3 linked regions of the Homo sapiens genome follow. The protein of the gene in region 1 purifies or fractionates together with the protein of each later gene. This does not show direct contact. Each region holds a gene or a part of one and is shown in the gene's direction. Other genes may lie near its edges.

What was found.
Region 2: the proteins of NAGPA (region 1) and UBR3 purify together in Homo sapiens (affinity purification with mass spectrometry; 2 studies listed by BioGRID and IntAct, with this or other methods). This does not show direct contact.
Region 3: the proteins of NAGPA (region 1) and NGLY1 purify together in Homo sapiens (affinity purification with mass spectrometry; 2 studies listed by BioGRID and IntAct, with this or other methods). This does not show direct contact.

Annotation. Positions count from the first base shown.
Region 1 is NC_000016.10:5,030,920-5,038,892, reverse strand, and holds the start of NAGPA (N-acetylglucosamine-1-phosphodiester alpha-N-acetylglucosaminidase precursor), read left to right. Parts: upstream 1-4,957; 5' UTR 4,958-4,978; coding exon 4,979-5,064; exon of another isoform or gene 5,065-5,164; coding exon 5,165-5,620; intron 5,621-7,008; coding exon 7,009-7,148; intron 7,149-7,973. UniProt on the Homo sapiens protein: Catalyzes the second step in the formation of the mannose 6-phosphate targeting signal on lysosomal enzyme oligosaccharides by removing GlcNAc residues from GlcNAc-alpha-P-mannose moieties, which are formed in the first step.
Region 2 is NC_000002.12:169,921,426-169,928,463, forward strand, and holds part of UBR3 (E3 ubiquitin-protein ligase UBR3), read left to right. Parts: intron 1-2,503; coding exon 2,504-2,569; intron 2,570-2,658; coding exon 2,659-2,748; intron 2,749-4,193; coding exon 4,194-4,322; intron 4,323-5,266; coding exon 5,267-5,319; intron 5,320-5,412; coding exon 5,413-5,546; intron 5,547-5,894; coding exon 5,895-5,980; intron 5,981-7,038. UniProt on the Homo sapiens protein: E3 ubiquitin-protein ligase which is a component of the N-end rule pathway. Does not bind to proteins bearing specific N-terminal residues that are destabilizing according to the N-end rule, leading to their ubiquitination and subsequent degradation.
Region 3 is NC_000003.12:25,718,434-25,724,471, reverse strand, and holds the end of NGLY1 (peptide-N(4)-(N-acetyl-beta-glucosaminyl)asparagine amidase), read left to right. Parts: intron 1-1,572; coding exon of another isoform or gene 1,573-1,737; exon of another isoform or gene 1,738-1,795; intron 1,796-4,280; coding exon 4,281-4,458; intron 4,459-4,836; coding exon 4,837-5,012; 3' UTR 5,013-5,528; downstream 5,529-6,038. UniProt on the Homo sapiens protein: Specifically deglycosylates the denatured form of N-linked glycoproteins in the cytoplasm and assists their proteasome-mediated degradation. Cleaves the beta-aspartyl-glucosamine (GlcNAc) of the glycan and the amide side chain of Asn, converting Asn to Asp.

The DNA of each region.
Region 1 (7,973 bases):
CCAGGTGGCTGCGAATGCCATTCATTCATTTCTTTTTATGGCTGAGTAGTATTCCATCATATATATATGATGTTTATCCACTCATTGATTGGCATTTGGGCTGGTTCCACATTTTTGCAATTGCGAATCTGCCCCCACCCCCAATCTGGTTAAATTGGATTTGTCCTTTAAGATTCCCCGTGATTGGCTGGGGGCAGTGGCTCACACCTGTAATCCCAGCACTTTGGGAGGCCGAGGCAGGCAGATCACGAGGTCAAGAGATTGAGACCATCCTGGCCAACCAACATGGTGAAACCCCTTCTCTACTAAAATACAAAAATTAGCCGGGCGTAGTGGCACACACCTGTAGTCCCAGCTACTTGGCAGACTGAGGCAGGAGAATGGCATGAACCTGGGAGGCGGAGCTTGCAGTGAGCTGAGATGGCGCCACTGCACTCCAACCTGGGCGGCAGAGCGAGACTCCGTCTCAAAAAAAAAAAAAGATTCCCCAAGGTTGTCCCTTGTTCTGTGAAGCCTCCTCCCCTCCTCACACCTACTTGCCCATCTCATTCCCTACACTGCTCTGTGGCAGCTCACTCTGGCTTCGTTTGTGTGCTTGTCAACTCTATTTTCAGATTGTGAATGACTTTAGGGCACAGACGATGTCTTGCTCCTCTTCAGGTGCCTGGCTCCTACTATACAGCCTGGAACATAGAAATGTTTAAAAAATATTTGCTGAATTAAATAGAAAAAATGAAGAAAAAGAAAAAAGAGGCACCTGGAGATGTTTTGTCCAGGTCTTAGCTGGTGGAAGGGACCTTGGGCTGTGAGCGTGCTTGAGTCTGGTCTGCCCAGCTGGCAGCCCCCACACCACCCTGCAAGTCCACATGGGATGAGGGGCACCCCTAATGTACCCAACTGGACGTGGGGGCCACCTACCAGACACGCAGCCTATGACAGAATCTCCTGCCCCTCAGAACCTCAACGCCAGTTTCTGGGATGCTGTTAATGCCCTCCCAGCCCTTTACACAACAGATACTATACACAGCACGGACAGAAGAAATTGATCCTTTGACGTTTCCATTTCCTAAGAGTTTTACAAAAATGACTTTCGGGCCGGGCACAGTGGCTCACGCCTATAATCCTAACACTTTGGGAGGCCAACGGGGGTGGATCACTTGAGGTCAGGAGTTCAAGACCAGCCTGGCCAATATGGTGAAACCCTGTGTCTATTAAAAATACAAAAATTAGCCGGGCGTGTTGGCACACCCCGGTAATCCCAGCTACTCAGGAGGCTGAGGCAGGAGAATCGCTTGAACCTGGGAGGCTGAGGTTGCAGTGAGCCAAGATCAGGCCATTTCAATCTACACTCGAGCTTAGGCAACAGAGTGAGACTCCATCTAAAAATAAATAAATAAACTAGCCTGGTGTGGTAGTACACACCTGTAGTCCCAGCTACTCAGGAGGCTGAGGTGGGAGGACTGCTTGAGCCCAAGAAGTCGAGGCTGCAGTGAGCGATGATTGCACCACTGTACTCCAGTCTGGGCAACAGAATGGGATCCTGTCTCTAAATAATAATAGAATTACATAACAAAACTTTTTTGGGTGATAAAAAAAATCCTAAAACTGGATAATGGTGATGCTGGAATATCGCTGTGCATTTACTACAAATCATTGCATTGTACACTTAGGAGAATTTTACAGTATGTAAATTTTATCTTAATAAAGTTTAAAAAAAAACCTTCCAATGGCTTACTATTTCACTTTGGCTGAAATCCATACTCATTTCCCTGGATCCCTGCATGTACGATCTGGCCTTGCCTTGGCCCTCCCACTTCAACCCTGCTCACCACCTCCAACCCCTCCCCCACGGCCCTCCTCTCCCACCAGGTGGCTCTTCCTGCTGCACCTCCCAAGCTGTTTCCCACTTCAGGCTCTGGCCCAGATCTGCACACAGCCGCATCTTTTCTTTCCTTCAATCACAGTCTAAAGGGGCTTGGAGAGGCTTCCCTGCCACACCTGCAACATCCTTCTCTCGCAGTCCTGCCCTTTGCTTCTTGCATTCATCACATAACTGTTTCATGTCTGTTTCCCCTTGAAAAGCTAAGCTCCATGAAGGCAGGGATCAGCTGCAACGGAGCACATACGAGGTGCTCAGCCTGTTGAACACACAAATGATGGTAGAACTCAAATGAGGATGCTAAGAGGGGACAAAAGTATTCCAGGCTGAAGAGCAAAAAAGAAAACCCTTGGCTTCTTAGCAGCTTTGGCTAGAACTGTGGATATGGGCTGCTCTGTTCAAATGCAGAATTTCTGTGGCACCCGTTATGTGCTTAGAAAAACTTGGCAAAGGAGTAGCAAACCTCAAAGTAGGGAGAAAACCAAAGTCAGAACTTGCCAAAGACTGCCTGTTCCTGCAACTCCTAACTGAGGCAGAAAAAAAGAGCGCTTCCGGAGGCAGGGAGTAGGCGTCAGGCCTGGGCTCCTCTGCTGGTTATTTTTAGCAGCCCAATGCAAAGCTCAGAAAGATATACTCCCTTCACATCAATATATTGGTCATTTAAGCCTCTAGGAGGAGCAGTCATTTTGTACATGGTTAAAGTGAACTAGGAGCGTCAGAGCTGTTCCCGGGACCCCTTTGAGGTCCCTGAATTGTATTAGTTTCCAAAAGCAAGGCATCAGCATGGCCATGTTCTCTGTCAAAGCTCAAGAGTCTCTCCCACGCCTCTCTCCTAGCTCTTGGTGGCTGCTAGCCTTCTTTGCATTCTTTGACTTATGACTGCATCAGTCCAATCTCTGCCTGTGTTCATATGAGCTTCTTTCCTCTGTGTGTATTTGTGTCTTTTACAAGAACACCAGTCAGATTGGATTCAGGGCCCACCCTACTCCAGAATGACCTCATCTTAACTAATTACATCTGCAAAGACCCAATTTCCAAACAAGTTCACATTCTGAGGTTCTGGTAAGGACATGAGTTTGGGGGGACACTCTCTAACTGAGTTCACTAACCCTCACCGTGGACTGGCTCAAAGGAGCAGTGGCTCAAAGAGGGGCCTGAGATCAAGCACCAGAAGTGCTGACTGTGGATGAAAAGGGGCTGGCCTGGCCCCTATCTGTGTCCCCCCATACCTGTGGTAGTGAGGGAGAAGGAAAAGAAAAATCCGTTGGGGAAAATTCTGACCTCAGAAGTGGCCTGCCTGAAAAGTCATAGAAACTGGCAAAAATAAAGCAACCTGGGAAAAAACTCAGGCTGGACCTGCACGGAGATAAGCAGACAGGGTCCAGCGCAGAAGCCCTTTGTTCTTTGCATAATTAGCAGGCTCCCGGGAAAAAGTTTCCTCTCCTTTTCAGGCATATACACAGTGGGCTCCATGGAAACCGGCACAGGGAGGAGGGGGCCTTATCTAAAACAAACCCACAGTTACACAAACAAGAGAAGCAGCGATTTGCACTTGCCTAGAGACATACCCACAGCTGCATAACATAAGGGGAGCTGCACAGGCAGTTTTACTGGTAAGAAGTTACTCAGTTACCAGGAGGAGAGCAGTGTCCTATAAAAGTTTTTTGCGGCCAGGCACAGTGGCTCACGCCTGTAATCCCAGCACTTTGGGAGGCGGAAGGAGGCGGATCACCTGAGGTCAGGAGTTTGAAACCAGCCTGGCCAACATGGTAAAATTTCGTCTCTACCCAAAATACAAAAATTAGCAGGGCGCAGTGACGTGTGCCTGTAATCCCAGCTACTCGGGAGGCTGAGGCAGGAGAATCATTTGAACCCAGGAGGCAGAGGTTGTTGAGGTTGCAGTGAGCCAAGATCGCACCATTGCACTCCAGCCTGGGTGACAAGAGCAAAACTCTGTCTTAAAAAAAAAAAAAAAAAAAGCTTTTTGCATTCAGCTGTAACCCGACAATCCACTCGGACTCCCGTCTCCACTTTGGAGAGCTTTCTTCTTTCCCTTATTAAACGTTCGCTCCAACCCCACCCTTGTGTCCACGCTCCTTAGTTTTCTTGGAGGTAGGACAAAGAACCCCGGGACTAGTTCAGACAAGGAGAAACTGCTATATTAAGGTGCACTGGCAAGACCGCAACAGTATCAAGCCAATTAGACTTGCCGTGGCTCCTGGAATGGCCCACGCACTGCACTGGCACCAAGACACCACCCAACCCTGGACACTGCACTGGGACAGGAGGCCTGAAGAGAAGAATCCTCTCAAAGGAAGCTTGAAGTACATGCTACAAAATAAACTGGCTTCTATACTCAGGGCCAGCTTCATGGGCTCACTCAGAAGGTCCCTGGCTTGCTGCAACCATTTGCTCTGACCATCTTGAAATTCTTAATAGTTTTCTGGGTTTTTTAGTAAGTGTCCCCACGTTTTCATTTTGCATTGAGTCACACAAATCATGTAGCTGGGCTGTCTTCAAAAATGTCAAGGTAGTAAAAGACAAAAGGCTGAGGAGCCTTCCAGATGAAGAGATCAAAGAGACATGACAACTAAAAGCAACTCCTGGGTTACAGGGTCAGGGGCGGACAAAAAGGAAAAGAAAAAAAAAGACATTAGAGGGACAATTGAAGGTTAGCTGTGGATGACATCACAGAAATGTCAATGGGAGTTGTCCTAATGATATTTGCCCTGTGGTTAAGAAAATGCCCTTGTTCTTAGGAGATTCATGGCGAGGTATGGGGTAAAGGATCATGACATCTGCAATTTGGTTGCCATTGGTTCAGGAAAAAAAAAAAACAAAGTACAAATGATTGAGTAAATCAGGCAAGCCTAAACCACTGCTAAACATGAATAACAGTTCTACGAGAGTTCTTTATGCTCTCCTTGCAACTTCCTGTAGGTTTGAGATTACCTGGAGATAAAAAGTTAACATCACCAGCACCGCCCGCCAGCCCGCCAGCCGAAAAGAGCGCAGGTAATTCAGTCCGAGCTGAAAGCGGCCACCCTGGGACTTGAGTCACGTGAGGCGAGCCCACATGACCCGAGGCCCCGGTCCAATATGGCGACCTCCACGGGTCGCTGGCTTCTCCTCCGGCTTGCACTATTCGGCTTCCTCTGGGAAGCGTCCGGCGGCCTCGACTCGGGGTGAGTGCAGCTCCCTGGGCCAGCCTGGTTCGGGGGGTCCCCCCTGTCCTCCGAGCTCACGAGGACAGCCCCCTGAGCTCACGGCCGCCCGTCCCCGCAGGGCCTCCCGCGACGACGACTTGCTACTGCCCTATCCACGCGCGCGCGCGCGCCTCCCCCGGGACTGCACACGGGTGCGCGCCGGCAACCGCGAGCACGAGAGTTGGCCTCCGCCTCCCGCGACTCCCGGCGCCGGCGGTCTGGCCGTGCGCACCTTCGTGTCGCACTTCAGGGACCGCGCGGTGGCCGGCCACCTGACGCGGGCCGTTGAGCCCCTGCGCACCTTCTCGGTGCTGGAGCCCGGTGGACCCGGCGGCTGCGCGGCGAGACGACGCGCCACCGTGGAGGAGACGGCGCGGGCGGCCGACTGCCGTGTCGCCCAGAACGGCGGCTTCTTCCGCATGAACTCGGGCGAGTGCCTGGGGAACGTGGTGAGCGACGAGCGGCGGGTGAGCAGCTCCGGGGGGCTGCAGAACGCGCAGTTCGGGATCCGCCGCGACGGGACCCTGGTCACCGGGTGAGGAGGCAGGGAGCCCCGTGCTGTCGAGGGCAGAGGGCCTGAGATTTGGGTTGTAGCCGTGCCTCCGTGTTCAAGTCACTTAACCAAGCTGAGCCCCTGTTTCCTCCTCTGCAGAATGGGGATAGGAATCGCTTCCTTGCAGAGTTTATTCATCATCCAGTATCATTGAGCACTTGCTTGTATCAGGCAATGTGCCGCGCCCCGGTGAGATAGCCGTGAACAACACAGTCTTTGCCTTAACAGCCCTCCCCCATTACTAGAAAAATCAACAAAAGCCGGGTAAATAGCTAACATACATTCTGATTGCTGTGTGTGCAGCAAAGCAACCAACGGGGTGAACCCGTTGTAAATAGTGTTGATTTTAGGGAGGGTGATCTGGAACACGCCTCTCCGAGGTGACCTTTGAGTGGGAACTTGAAGATGAATCACTAAGTGAGCCAAGGTCAGAACTGGAGGAAGAGCGTTTCAGTCCAAAGGAACCCCACGCACAAAGGCTCAGAGGCTCAGGGGGGCTTGTGTGTATGAGGGACTGAAAAAGGAGTGGGGTGTCAGAAACATCAACTCATCAAGACTGATGATTTTTTTTTTTTTGAGACAGAGTCTTGCTCTGTTGCCCAGGATGGAGGGCAGTGGCATGATACCGGCTCACTGCAACCTCTGCCTCCCGGGTTCAAGCGATTCTCCTGCCTCAGCCTCTGGAGTAGCTGGGACTACGGACGTGTGCCACCACGCCCGGCTGATTTTTGTATTTTTAGTAGAGACGGGATGGGGTGGGGAACGGGGGAGTGGGTTCACCATATTGGCCTGGCCGGTCTCGAACTCCTGACCTCAAGTGATCCACCCACCTCAGCCTCCCAAAGTGCTGGGATGACAGGTGTGAGCCACCACGCCCTGGCAAGATTGATGATTTGAATTATTTAAAATTATCTTAAAAATTATTTGAGTCTCAAAAAAAAAGTATTTGTTGATGATAAAGCTTGTTCTGATCCTGAGTGGGACCAGGTGGGAGAGAGCAGTGGAGAAACAAGGAAGCCAATGAAGGGCCGTAACAGGGATCAAGTGGTAGTTGGGCTGGGTATGGCCTGGGGATTGAGGGCCATAGATGGATTTGAGCTCTGTTGGGGGATGGTCATTTCTGTTAAATGAAACAGACTGTTTGCAAAGGCTTGTGGGGATTGTATTGTCAGAACCCTGTCCAGCTTCAGCTCTGACAACAGGGAGATTCCTAGGGCTGTTAAGTTGTCCCAGCTACACTCAGGCCCCAGGAGGTTCCTGGGGCATGAGGGGGAATCTAGCAGCCAGGTTGGGATGGCTAGGGAGAAAGAGCCTGACTATCTGCAGTTGCCCCTGCTGGTGAGTGAGCTTCCCACCTTCCCCGGATCCAGGTACCTGTCTGAGGAGGAGGTGCTGGACACTGAGAACCCATTTGTGCAGCTGCTGAGTGGGGTCGTGTGGCTGATTCGTAATGGAAGCATCTACATCAACGAGAGCCAAGCCACAGAGTGTGACGAGACACAGGAGACAGGTTGGATGGGGAGGCTGTTGGCAACAACCCTCTCGAGAACCAGGACCAGTGGGCTGGGCGGAGCTGTTCTTAAGTCTTTCAACAAGTATTGAGCAGCTACTTTGTGCCCAGCACTATTCTGGGTACTGGGGATTCATGGGGAGGAAGATAGGCTTATATTGAATATATAGGACAAAAAATAGTTATAGAATATGCTGAAAAGAATTGATAAGTGCTCAGAAACAAAAATAAAGTTAGGGGAAAGGGGAGAGATGGGGACCGGAGCTGTGGGTACAGGAAGAGAAAAGTGAAGAGAAAAAAATCTTCATGGACCTGCAACATCGGCGTGGCCCAGGAGCTTGTTTCAAAGCCCCACACCCTCAGACCTGCAGAATCAGAGGCAAGGCCCAAGAGTCTATGTTTTAACGGGCCTCCATGGTGACTCTGACCGACACTCAAGGTTGAGAACCACTGGGATGCAGAATACTGGGATGGGGACAGGATACCATGACCATTTTAGAGTGGGCAGTAAGCTAGGTGTGGTGGCTAACACCTATAATCCCAGCACTTTGGGAGGCCGAGGCGGGAGGATCGGTTGAGCCCAGGAGTTCAAGACCTGCCTGGGCAACATAGTGAGACCTATCTCTACAAAAAAAAAAAATACAAAAATTAGCCAGGCATGGTGGTGTGTGCCTGTAGTCCCAGCTACTTGGGAGGCTGAAGCATGAGAATTGCTTGAACCTGGGAGGTGGAGGTTGCAGTGAGCTGAGATCATGCCACTGCACTCCAGCCCGGGCAACACAGCGAGACTCTTTGTCTCAAAAAAAAAAAAAGAGTGGGCGGTCA
Region 2 (7,038 bases), on another chromosome or scaffold:
CTTATCAAGTAGCCAGTCTGTGACATTAGACAAGGAAGGAATATGGACTTTAACGTTATGGAGAATGTGAACATAGGATATGCTAAAGCCCTGAAAGATAAAATAGGGTCCATGGCTTACTAGTTAATAGCAATATGTACTGGGTACTGTGCTGTTTTACTTATTTCTCGCAGCTACTAAACTCTTTATTATTCCTACTTTAAGGATCAGACAACTTAGGCACAGAGAGGTAACTTGCCCATAGTTTTACAGCTGGGTGGTAGAACCAGGATTCTGCACTTAGGAAGCAGGCACAGTGGTTCACGCCTTTGGTCCCAGCACTTTGGGAGGCCGAGGCAGGTGGATCACTTGAGGTCAGGTGTTTGAGACCAGCCTGGGCAACATGGTGAAACCCTGTCTCTACTAAAAATACAAAAATTAGCCGGTGTGGTAATACATGCCTGTAGTCCCAGCTACTCAGGAGGCTGAGGCAGGAGAATTGCTTGAACCCGGGAGGCAGAGGTTGCAGTGAGCTGAGATCGCGCCACCGTACTCCAGTCTGGGGGACAGTGCGAGACTCAAAAAAAGGGTCTGCACCTAGGCTGGGCCTGGTGGTTCACGTCTATAATTCCAATCCTTTGGGAGGCTGAGGCGGGCAGATTGCATGAGCCCAGGAGTTCGAGAGCAGTCTGGGCAACATGGCAAAAACCCTGTCTCTACCAAAAACAGAAATTAGCCAGGCATGGTGGTGTGTGTCTGTAGTCCCAGCTGCTCAGGGGGCCGAGGAGGGAGGATGACTTGAGCCCGGGAGGTGGAGGTTGCAGCGAACTGTGATCGTGCCACCATACTCCACCCTGGGCCACAGAGTGAGACCCTGTCTATTTAAAAAAAAAAAAAAAAAAAGAGTCTGCACTTATCCACTGTGCTTAGTGCCTCAAAGGAAATTGAGGGAGATTCTGACTTAGCTAGTTAGTGTAGAATATGTTACTAAGGCGATTATGGTAATGGAGGGCAAACTTTTTAAAATTTTATTTTTAATTGTGGTAAAATACACAGAAAACATAAAATTCACTATCTTAATCATTTTTAAGTGTATAGTTCAGTAGTGTTATGTGTATTTGTATTGTCGTGCAGCCAATCTCCATAACTTTTTTATCTCATAAAATTGAAACTATACTCATTAAATAGCTACTCCCCATTTCCTCTTCCCCCAGCTTCTGGCAACCACCATTCTACTTTGTATCTCTACGAATTTGGCTGCTCTAAGAACCTCATATAGGTGGAATCATATAGTTACTGTCTTTTTGTGACTGGCTTATTTTACTTAGCATAATATCCCGAAGGTTTATTCATGTTACAGAACATTGTTAGACTTTCCTTTCTTTTTATGGAGGGCAAACTTTTATTTATTAGAACAAATTTTTATAGCCTTTACATATTGAAGAGGATATTATTATCTTACTGGTTTTGAAAAAAATAATTATTTCAGGGATGGTGACATATTTAGACTCCTTATAACCTCTATAATGTAAATTATATACATTAGCATAATTATCTGAATGTCCGGGATAAACATTTTTAACAAGAGAATATTTAATAAGAACTTAAAAAGCATTAAAAACAAACAATACCTTTTCAGTTCTTAACTCATTTGTTTAAGAAGGACAGCTGTGGTGTATTTTTGCCCTGTAGTGATTTTGTGATCCATGGGATTCACAGATTTAAAATACAGTTTTTGTAATATTTACAGGAATGCCTAAGGTCATTCACATATTTTTTATGAAGTTTTGTTATGGAGGCTGGTGCGTTTGGTACTGTTTGGAAGCATCTTATCTAACTGGTGAAGGAATCTAACGATGCCCTGCATTTATACCTCTGTTTAGGGATGTGGTCAGAGTCTTCTTACAGTTTTGAATATGACAGTGGAGTCCAGATTAGCTCCCCAGTTCACTACTTTTGAACTTTAGGAAGTTAGTTAAGTTTTCTAAGTTTGAATTTTGCTACTTGTAGAATGAGAATATTAGTAGCTCCTACCCCATAGCATTCTTCTGAGGATTAAATGTGGTAATGTGAATAAAGTGCTTAGCATGGTGACTGGCACATAGGAAGTGTTCAATGAATGTTATATGTGACTGTTATTACTGTCATGATGTTTGGTATACATGCGTTTGAAGAGTCCCAAATGGTCTACTGTAGCTGGAAATCCATTCCATCCCTTGTTTTAATAATAATTATTTGCTTTAGCTGAATTGAATTTAGGAAATATTAATCTGTACTGGATGCTTCAGAGGATTCAAAGTTGAGTAGAATACAATTTCTGCCTTCAAGAAACTTATACTTAAGTGTTTAAAATGGAAAAATTTTATCTATAGTGATTTTGGAATCTGCATCTTCTAAAATGTTAAGTTTTGAACTAAAAGTATAGGAATAAATCCAGGTGAGAGTATGGTTTAAACATTTTACAACCATCTTAAAATTTCTATAAAATAGTCTTTGACTTGTGCATTTTGTTTGTTTATTCCAGCCAGCACCTAACCAAGTCACTTTTCATCTGCCACTACATCGTTACTATGCTATGTTTTTGAGTAAGGTAAGACTGTCATTAAACAATTCTGTTCTTTTTTTTTTAATTTTCAGAAATAAGAATTGAATTAGTAACTTTTTTATTGTAATTTTTAGGCTGTGAAATGTCAAGAACTAGATTTGGATTCTGTTTTACCAGATCAGGAAATGTTAATGAAACTAATGATTCACCCACTCCAAATTCAAGTATGTATTCAGGCATTTAAAAAGTTTTGAAGTGGATTCCTTGTTTAAGTGATTCTTCCTTTATTTATATGCCTTTCATTGTTATTATAGCTGAGATGTTTGAAAACTTTTTTTAAAAAGTTGTTATTGTATTTTTGCTAGATTATGTTTAGGTATTTTTCATTTTATGAGATTTACTTTTTAGTTTTACTTTTTCCAGGAATTCTTTTCATGATATTTGCTTATGGGGTGGTATTTAACATACTATATAGCACTGTTTTGGGAGTCAGGAGATCCAAAAGATTCTAGCCTTGGTGCTACCACTGTTTTATTTTCCGCAAGGTTTAAGGTAATTCACCTCCTTGATTCTCAGTTTCCCTATCTGTATAGTGAGAGGAGAAAGAGGAGAGAAGAATTAGCTTATATAAGCACTGTGATTTCTTTTAATACCAGCAATGTAATTTGACAGGCCAGCTTTTTATATACATTAGAGGGACTTGCACTTCCATTTGTTTTTCCTGGCAATTTTAGATTTGTTAATTATTATAATATTGAACTTGAACTCTGGGTGTTAGGAAACATAAAATTATGACTGCTTGAAGCCAGGTGTGGTGGCTCACGCCTGTAATTCCAGCACTTTGGGAGGCCAAGGCGGGCAGATCACGAGGTCAAGAAATCGAGACCATCCTGGCCAACATGGTGAAACCTTGTCTCTACTGAATATACAAAAATTAGCTGGGCATGGTGGCGTGCACCTGTAGTCCCAGCTACTCGGGAGGCTGAGGCAAGAAGAATTGCTTGAACCTGGGAGACAGAGGTTGCAGTGGGCCAAGATCGCGCCACTGCACTCCAGTCTGGCGACAGAGTGAGATTCTGTTTCAAAAAAAACAAAAAAAATGATGACTGCCTAGTTTTAGTTGACACTGGACATAAATACATGAAGAATTAAATACTGATGTAGTGAGAACATTTATTCTAACCTCCAATATTTGGAAAATTAGCAGTATAGATTTAAGATTGAGTTAGGGTGAATTAAAGATGTAGAATGTATTCATTGACTTTGAACAGTTGGTTTTATTTTATGCTTATTCTAGTGTCTTTCTTTAAACATGTATATTAGGATTGTTGTTGTTGTTACTTAGGGTTTTCTTGAGGGAGAAATAGAGTGAAACATAAGCATTGATTTCTTATGAAAGATGTCAGTGAAAATCATCATAAATGTATCCAGAGGCCAACATGGAAAACCAACTCATTTGTTTAAACTCTAAAAAAGTGGCTATGTAAAAACATAATTATTGTTAAAAAAAATGTAAAAATGTATATTTCAACTGATTATCTTTAACATTGGACAGAATATCGGGCTTATACTATGATCACATCATTAAATATTTTGAAATGGTTATTTATAATATTTTGTAAAGATTGCATTTAGATAATTTATTCTTTGTCCAATTTACTTTTATTAGGCAAGTCTTGCAGAAATCCACAGCAATATGTGGGTAAGAAATGGTCTGCAAATCAAAGGACAAGCCATGACGTATGTCCAGTCTCATTTCTGTAATTCCATGATTGATCCTGACATTTACCTGTTACAGGTAAGCCAGCTAGATAATGCAGATATACTTTAGAAGTGTCTCATTTGTACCCAAGGGATTTTAATTTATAGAGGTGACTGCGTGATGACATGGAGAGGCCAATGCCATTGAAAGAATAATTTTTTACTTACATTTCCCAGGAGAAGAGGCATACCACCCAACACAAGGCTACAAGGAAAGCACCAGATTTTGGTCAAGAGGCAGAAAGGAGTGAGGGGAGAGCCTAGGCCAGAGCCTTTATTGGGGTTTCTGCAGGAAAGGCAAGGAAAGGCAAGGCAGGATTGGCTAATTTGAATAATTCCAGCAGGCTTTGAGGCATAGGGGCTGTATCTGGCTCTGCGGTACCTGGCCCTGGGTTGATTTAGGGGAGGGGAAATACTGGGTTGATGTGTGAGAGTTAGATAAAGACAGTGGTTGGCTTGCATGACAGGCATTTTCCCAAGTAAGTTGTTTAGTATGTTCAGGAATTAACTGGCTCTGGGAGGGACTATCTGTCTTCAGGTCTGTAATGCCCCTCAAGATGTCAAAACATCATAATATACAGAAAATAAAAATCATAGCCAGGCGTGGTGGCTCATGCCTGTTATCCCAGCACTCTGGGAGGCCAAGGCAGGCAGATCACTTGAGGCCAGGAGTTTGAGACCAGCCTGGCCAACACGTCGAAACCCTGTCTCTACTAAAAATACAAAAATTAGGCAGGTGTGGTGGCACACACCTGTAAATCCCAGCTACTCGGGAGACTGGGGGATGAGAATTGCTTGAGCCTGGGAGGCAGAGGTGGAGGTTGCAGTGAGCTGAGGTTGCACCAGCTTGGGTGAGAGTGAGACTCTGTCTCAAAAACAAAAAACAAAAAACAAAAAACAAAAAAAAGTATAGAAAAACATGATTAATAGAAGAAGGAAAACTGAATATTGAGAAATAAAGCATTTTGTTTTCTTTTAAAGGTTTGTGCTTCTAGACTTGACCCAGATTATTTTATTTCATCCGTCTTTGAAAGGTAGGCATAATTTTATTAAGACAGGTATTAGGAAGTGTCCAGTTAATTTTGTTTTAATTTATAAAAATATGTTTCAAATATTTCTTCTTGTAGATTTAAGGTAGTGGATTTGTTGACAATGGCATCACAACATCAAAATACAGTACTTGATGCAGAGCATGAGAGGTCGATGTTAGAAGGCGCTCTTACATTTCTTGTGATTCTTTTGAGTCTTCGTTTACATTTAGGTAAAACTCACTGATACTAATACTTATGCATTAACTGTTTTCCTCCCTTTCTCCCCCTCCCTGTGGTAGTAACTGGCTTAGGGAAAAAAGGAAAGGATGTAGATAAATGTAAACAATGTTTCAAACTCTTGATATGTTGTACTGTAGGTATACCTTTTAGAATATCCTTTGCTTAAGGGAACTGCAAACAGCAGTTAAACTGCAGTTATGTTTGGAGCATAGCTTCTTTACTCTTTAATTTGAAGCATCTTATATTTGGTAAAACAGCTTAGTAAAAAGTGTGGTAAGTTTTTTTCTTTATAATTTATGTATACTCAGATTTGTTAATTCCGTTTTTAATAATTTTAGGAATGTCTGATGATGAGATTCTCAGGGCCGAGATGGTAGCCCAGCTGTGTATGAATGACAGGACACACAGTTCATTGCTGGACCTCATATCCTTTTAAAATTTTACTTTCTGTTAGTTGCAGGATCTAAAATAAGTATTTTTTATGATTAATAGTTTATCAATTTTTTGATTAATTTTTTTTCAAAGTTGAAAAATAATATAGAAAAAGAAGAACACCAGTTGTGTGCTCAAGTATGTATTCAAGCCTGGTGACTGTTTTTTTTTTTTTTTAACCTCCTGTTATTACCTCTTGGGGAACTCTTCTTAGACTTTAGGGTAGATTTCAGGACTGAATGATGGCTTTGGCCACCCCAGCATTTAACCTCCTAGTGGACAGCATTACTGAACGTTTTATAAAAGGCAGCTAGGTCCATTTTGTCTGTGTAGCCAGGATGCAATTCATGGTTAACAGTTAAAGGTATACCTTACGATTATTATTACCAGGATTTTAAACATTTTGAGGGTTTTTCTGTAGAATTTGGTCTTAAAGGATTTTTGAATTTATAGATTTTTGTGTACAAACAGGGAACCTGTGGTTCTTTGTATAGGACTGAACATACAATGAGAATCTGATTATCTTTTTAAGTTAATGTTAATAAAATTTTACACAAAGATTATCAAGTAATTTTGTGATAAAAATTCTGGCCGAATTTAGTATTTGTATATCTTATGACTATGTTTGGAAGAATTGGCTAAACTTTTTATTTTGTGAAATAAGTCCTATTAGAATGCCTGTTTGACAACCTTGATTTTTGTAAGCAGCCTCAATTTGATACTGTCTGATGATTTCCTTCAGTCATTATGAACTATGTGTCAGTGCTATTATAGAGTAAAAACGATCTCTGTGTCTTTCAATTTTAAAGATTTATGTGCTTTAATGTGAGGAGAGAATCTTTTTGGTTTGCCTCTTTGCTTATATTTGCTTAGTATTTTTTTCTTTGGGGATGAAATTTTGTGTTTTTGGAAAAACAATCTTTGCTCATAAAAATCTTGGCTAATTTTTCACAAGTTCTTTCTGTTTTTTAAGGAAAAGTTATTTACAAAATGGTAAAAATGAAGACACATTTTTAAAAGTTTTTCTATCGTTTTCTGAAATTTGATAAA
Region 3 (6,038 bases), on another chromosome or scaffold:
TACACAGAAATATTTACAGTGGGAACTACAAGTGGATTCATGTTTGATTTTCAACATAAAATGGAATAACCAAAAACAAGACTCATTGCAAGTACCGGTTTACCAGCAACAATTTGAGATTCCTTGAAATACAGCTGCTTTGCTGGGTATCTGTGGGAATGACGGACTTCAGGGTGCTTGCTGTATGGTGAACTGAACTTGAGTGAATCTTAGCAGCCTCAGTAGAACAATAATTTTAAGAGTGTATTAAAGAAGAGCTTCAAACAATATAGTCCAAACTGAACCTCTAGGGAGCCATAGCAGCCTGACATGTAGTAATCAAAAAATCTTTGAGCAAAATCTTCTGTAGAATATTAGTTACATAAAGCCAACATGCAAATTGTTCTCAGTCCTGAAAATAGTGGTTACAGCCACAACCTAAAGACAAGTTCTATTTTTATATATTGTGAATAGTATGGCTTATGCCTAAACCGTAGACACACAGGTCTTGTTCTCACGCAAAGGGTGTATATGCTCATATGTGCTTACAACAAGGAGCAAGGATGGGTCACTGGTGGGAGGAGGGGTTGGGTGGTATATATAGAATACAGGAGAAAACCTCCATGATTTCTGACTTTACTAGCACTCCTGCTAAAGTAGGATAGCAACACTCACCTTTTAGAGACCTACACATTACAAAACCGAGCTTACAGAATGCACACAATAAATTTAAAAAAAATTTTTTAAAGCCAACAGGCAAAAATATGTCTATCAAATAACTCACGATGTTAGGAACAATCAACAGTTGTAAAAAAAATTTTTTTTCTCTACACTAAACAAGTGAATGTTTGCTTTTTTTTTTCCTTTTAAATAAATTATAGTTACTGATTGTGTTCATATTATACATAGTGGGATCAGAGTTGGAGGTTTTTTATAAATTCTATTGTTGTGGTACATTTTAATTTACTAAACTGAGTATACATATTCTTGGTAACTTTCTACCACCTCTAAAAATGAGTCTTTGACAGAATATATTGTGCAAAAAAAGATGATAGGAATTTTCTGTATAAATAGGGTGTTTTATCTCCATATACTGTTCTTTAACATAAGAGACCTTTTTTATTTTGCTCATAGTATGTTTGAATGTTTAAACATTTAAGTATTAAATCATGAACTCTATCTTATTCTTTAACTTTCTAGAGTCTTAAAAGCTGATGATGCCTTTAGGACTGAAAATTTTAAGGCTTTAATAAATGCTGTCAGACATGTTCAACAGCTACTATAAACCTTCTCTTAAACAGTTAAAACCACAGTTCTGACCCAGACCCACACAATATAATTAAGGCAGTTATTGGAGTAAGCTAGATTTGAAGTTAACGTAATTTCAGCCTATCATATTTTATACCCACACTTTTGAGGGACATTTGAATCTAGTGAGCTCTGAAAATATACAAGATATAGAAGTGCATATTGAGAGATAAATTTGAGTATATCTGTTAATGTTTATGTCTTAAGATTACTTTCCTTAAGTCTTTTAGTTCTTTTAATTCACCTTTCTTCCAGTAACCTCTCTGTTTGGCTCTTCTTTCCCAGATATCCCCCTTTGCTAGCCATTCCTTTAAAGGAGCAGTTAACCTGTGTGTAACCCAGATGCCTAATAGTTTAGGATGGGTGAAACTAATGACTCCCGGGGAACACTGGTGGAGTCCTGAGTCCCACATCCTCCTTACAAGCGGCTGTAAGAGGAGCATGCAGTAGGAACATATATGAACACCAGAGGATGTTATAGTGGCGTTGTCCAAACTTGAGTGGAGCAATTGACAGTTCCACATCTAGGTTTGTCAACAACAAATAACAGTTGGCTATACATATCTACTCTGAGTAGTTTAAGAACATTTTCTTTGGAGAGTGATTGTTCAGTTGTTACATAATCTCTAACTCACTGATTCTAAAAATTTTCAGATTAAATTAATGGGCATACCTGGAAGAAAAATAGCTATAGGTTGGTTGTCAAATAGATGGTGATTAGAATACTATTGGCGATTGATTTTTTTACTTGATATGAGTAAAGACCAGAATACAGAATAGTACATATAATAGGATATTCCATGGCAGATGTGTTTTATATGGTACTTTCAACTATTTGCCCCTGAGCTAGAGTATGAGTTAGATGTTTCTAAAAAGATCAAGTCTAACATGAATATATATATATATATATGTGTGTATACAGATCTTTAATAATATTTACTAAATGTTTTTATTTTTATTTTTTTTTTTAGACAGAGTCTCGCTCTGTCACCCGGGCTGGAGTGCAGTGGCACCATCCCGCTCACTGCAACCTCTGCCTCCCTAGTTCAAGCAATATTCATGTATCAGCCTCCCGAGTAGCTGGGATTACAAGTGTGCACTAACATGCCCGGCTAATTTTGGTATTTTTAGTAGAGATGGGGTTCCACCATGTTGGCTAGGCTGGTCTTGAACACCTAACCTCAAGTGATCCGACTGCCTCAGCCTCCCAAAGTGCTGGGATTACCGGTGTGAATGACTGTGCCCGGCACTAAATGCTTTTATGAATCCAGAAACTGTGCCCCCAGAGAGCTTATGATTTGATGAAGATAGGTCAGAGTATGGGCAGTATAAAGGAGTATAGTATAAAAAAATAAAAAGGAGCATTGGCAATTCAAGGTGGGATGAAATTGTGGAGGATTTTTTCTTTTCTTTTTTTTTTTTTTTTTTTTTTTTTTGAGATGGAGTCTTGCTCTGTCGCCCAGGCTGGAGTGCAATGGCGCAGTCTCGGCTCACTGCAAGCTCCGCCCCCCGGGTTCACACCATTCTCCTGCCTCAGCCTCCTGAATAGCTGGGACTACAGGCGCCTGCCACCACGCCCAGCTAATATTTTGTATTTTTAGTAGAGGCAGGGTTTCACTGTGTTAGGATGGTTTCGATCTCCTGACCTCGTGATCCACCTGCCTCAGCCTCCCAAAGTGCTGGGATTACAGGCGTGAGCCACCGTGCCCAGCCTAATTGTGGAGGATTTTTAAAGCTAATAGATTAGACTTAATGTAAGAACCAAGTACTTGCTGTACATTTCAGACCAGGCAGATAACATAAAGAGAGTGGGATTTTAAAACATTAATCTGATCAGAGCCAGGCACGGTAGCTCACACCTACAATCTCAGCAACTCAGGAGACTGAGGCAGGCGTTCAAGACCAGCCTGGGCAACATAGTGAGACCCTGCCTCTAAAAAATTTTTTTAAATTAGCCAGGCATGGTAGTTGGAGGCTGAGACAACAGGGTCATTTGAACCCAGGAGTTCAAGGCTTCAGTGAGCTATGATTGCACCACTGCATTCCAGCCTGGGTGACAGAGTGAGACCCTGTGTCTAAAATAATACACTTGAAAATAAAAATATGGTCAGAGCAATTGGAATTGTACAACAGTAGTCAATTGCATTAAGATAAGTGTAAAGTTCAAACTGTAGTAGTAAGTGCAGTATTAGTGAGGAAGGGGTTTCTTTCCAAGATTTCAAACAAATACATAGAATTTTGTGGGAATTCAGACGTAAGGGATGAACGACTGAAGCGTCAGAGTCTTAAGAGTTTGAGCATGGTTGAATAGAGTGACCTGTGAAAGACCAAGGCTGTGGATGTCAGTTTTCATGGCAATGTTTTGAGGAGTGTAGATAAAAGTATGAGAGGGGATGAGCTGGAAGCAGCCAGTAGGCTTAGATGCCTTAAATAGTATACATTTAATGTGCTAAAGGGCGTTGATGAAGGAACAGGGAGCATGCTATTTAGAGAAGTGAGCATGGATATCACCTTTTAAACCATTAGTTAGCAGTGGCTCAGGTATTTTCTCGATTTAGAGACTATAGCATACCATGTCACACTAGGAAAGCGTATATGAAAATCCAGACTTATAAAAATTAAAGAGTAGTTGCATTTAAAAGGATTCTTCATTTTCAGCAGGATTAGTCATAAAACTCATTTTAAAGAGTTGAACTTCTTAATATAAAAGAAGATGATTTACCAAAATTTGGTTAGAATGCAGTCCTTTAGAATTGCACTTTTTGGGGACATCTGCATTCAAATAATACCTGTCTTCTAGGGTAAAAGATGCCATGGGAAAAATTGCCAAAAAAAATGTTAGCAGTAAGAACCTTTTCAACAGGGAAAAGTTAGTTTTTAAATAACCACTTGTACATACTACCCTGTGACAGTAATATTCTTCACTAAGTTTGTTTTCTATACTATTTCATTTTTTCTGACAGTTCCTTTCTCCCCATCCCTACTCCTTATAGGTATATTTGGCCCGAAAGGAAGGATCATCTTTTGCTTATATTTCCTGGAAGTTTGAGTGTGGGTCAGTTGGCCTAAAAGTAGATAGCATTTCTATTAGAACAAGTAGTCAAACTTTTCAGACTGGAACAGTAGAATGGAAATTGCGATCTGATACAGCACAAGTAGAACTGACAGGCGGTAAGCATTTGCCTGGAGAATTAATCACGAAATATATATTTACCACTCTGAAGACTAATTGTACTTATTTGAGATGTAGCTCTTTTTCGTACCTAAGAGTTATTAATACTATTTCAGTAAAAAAAAAAAAATTTAATAAACCCTGTGTGATCCCATTGTAACAGAAAGGCTGATGTTTTCTGTTGTGAAATACAAATGCAAGGAAAAAATCATTTCTTTGTTTCAAAGGATGCATTTCTTCCATAAAGAATAATTTGTATTTATTTTTAAGGGTTTATTTTAACTTATACATCAGCCTATATAAAATACATTTCAAAATGATCTGTGCTCTTTAAATTACCAAAAGCAAAATGTTAATTTTTTTTTTCCCTCTAACAGATAACAGTCTTCACTCCTATGCTGATTTTTCTGGTGCCACTGAAGTTATTTTGGAAGCAGAATTAAGCAGAGGAGATGGTGATGTCGCTTGGCAACACACCCAGCTGTTTAGACAAAGCTTAAATGACCATGAAGAAAATTGTTTGGAGATAATTATAAAATTCAGTGACCTTTGAGAACCTGAACATTATAGAAAAGCTGGCAATAATCAAGGACTTACTGAAGTAGTCTGTTGGTTCAGTGCATGCTTAGTTGGCAGTTACCACCCTGTGCTAGCATATTTCTTTTGCTAGCTATCCATCATGTAACCCTCATGAAAATTATCTTTATACGTGGACTATAATAAAATATTGAATTAAAACCTTTCTTCCATATGTGACTATAATTTGGAGTAAAGTCTTGTTGACTCAATATGGGATTTTAATCTAAAACTGTAAGTATGGTTTTAAAAGTTAAATAATGATATTCATGATTAAATGCTATTCATGATTATGATAAAATCTTGGGCTTATGATAGTAATTTGACATTTTCTGATCAGCCATTCATTTCTTCAGAAGTGGTTAAATTAGAGTCTCCTAATATTTTTAATTAATGTGAAAGTACAGTAGCTCATAAATTATATAATGCATGAAAATTTATATGATTATAAATATTCAGGCATTTAAGAAATAAAATGAAGTATTTTGCCTTACATCTTTTTAGTGGTTATTTTGGCTAAATAAAAATCTTTTTTCTAAACATTGAAAAATACTTGAATAGATATGAGTTATGAAAACATTTAACATTGACAACATAAACTAGGATACATTTTAAATTCCATAATACGTGGACATTTTGAAAATGCCTTACCTTTGAGTTATATTTTTATCTACCTCATTGAATAAAATATTCTTGATTTTGAAACTATGTAACTATATTATACAGTATCTATATGTTGTATCAAGAGGTTTTGTGTATATTCTGTATAACCTCTCAAATTTAGTGAACATTTATTAAGCATTTATGTACAAAGCATTGTGATAGCACTGTGGAGGAAGCAGTGGTGAAAAAGACATAGCCCCAAGCCTCCAGATTCCTTTGTGATATTCTGCAAAGTGAGTTCTCAACTCTTTATACAAGAAAAAGACACACTCAAGAGTCTCACCCTGTGCCACTCAATAGAACGTGACATGTATTATAAAATATATAATAAGATCTGGAA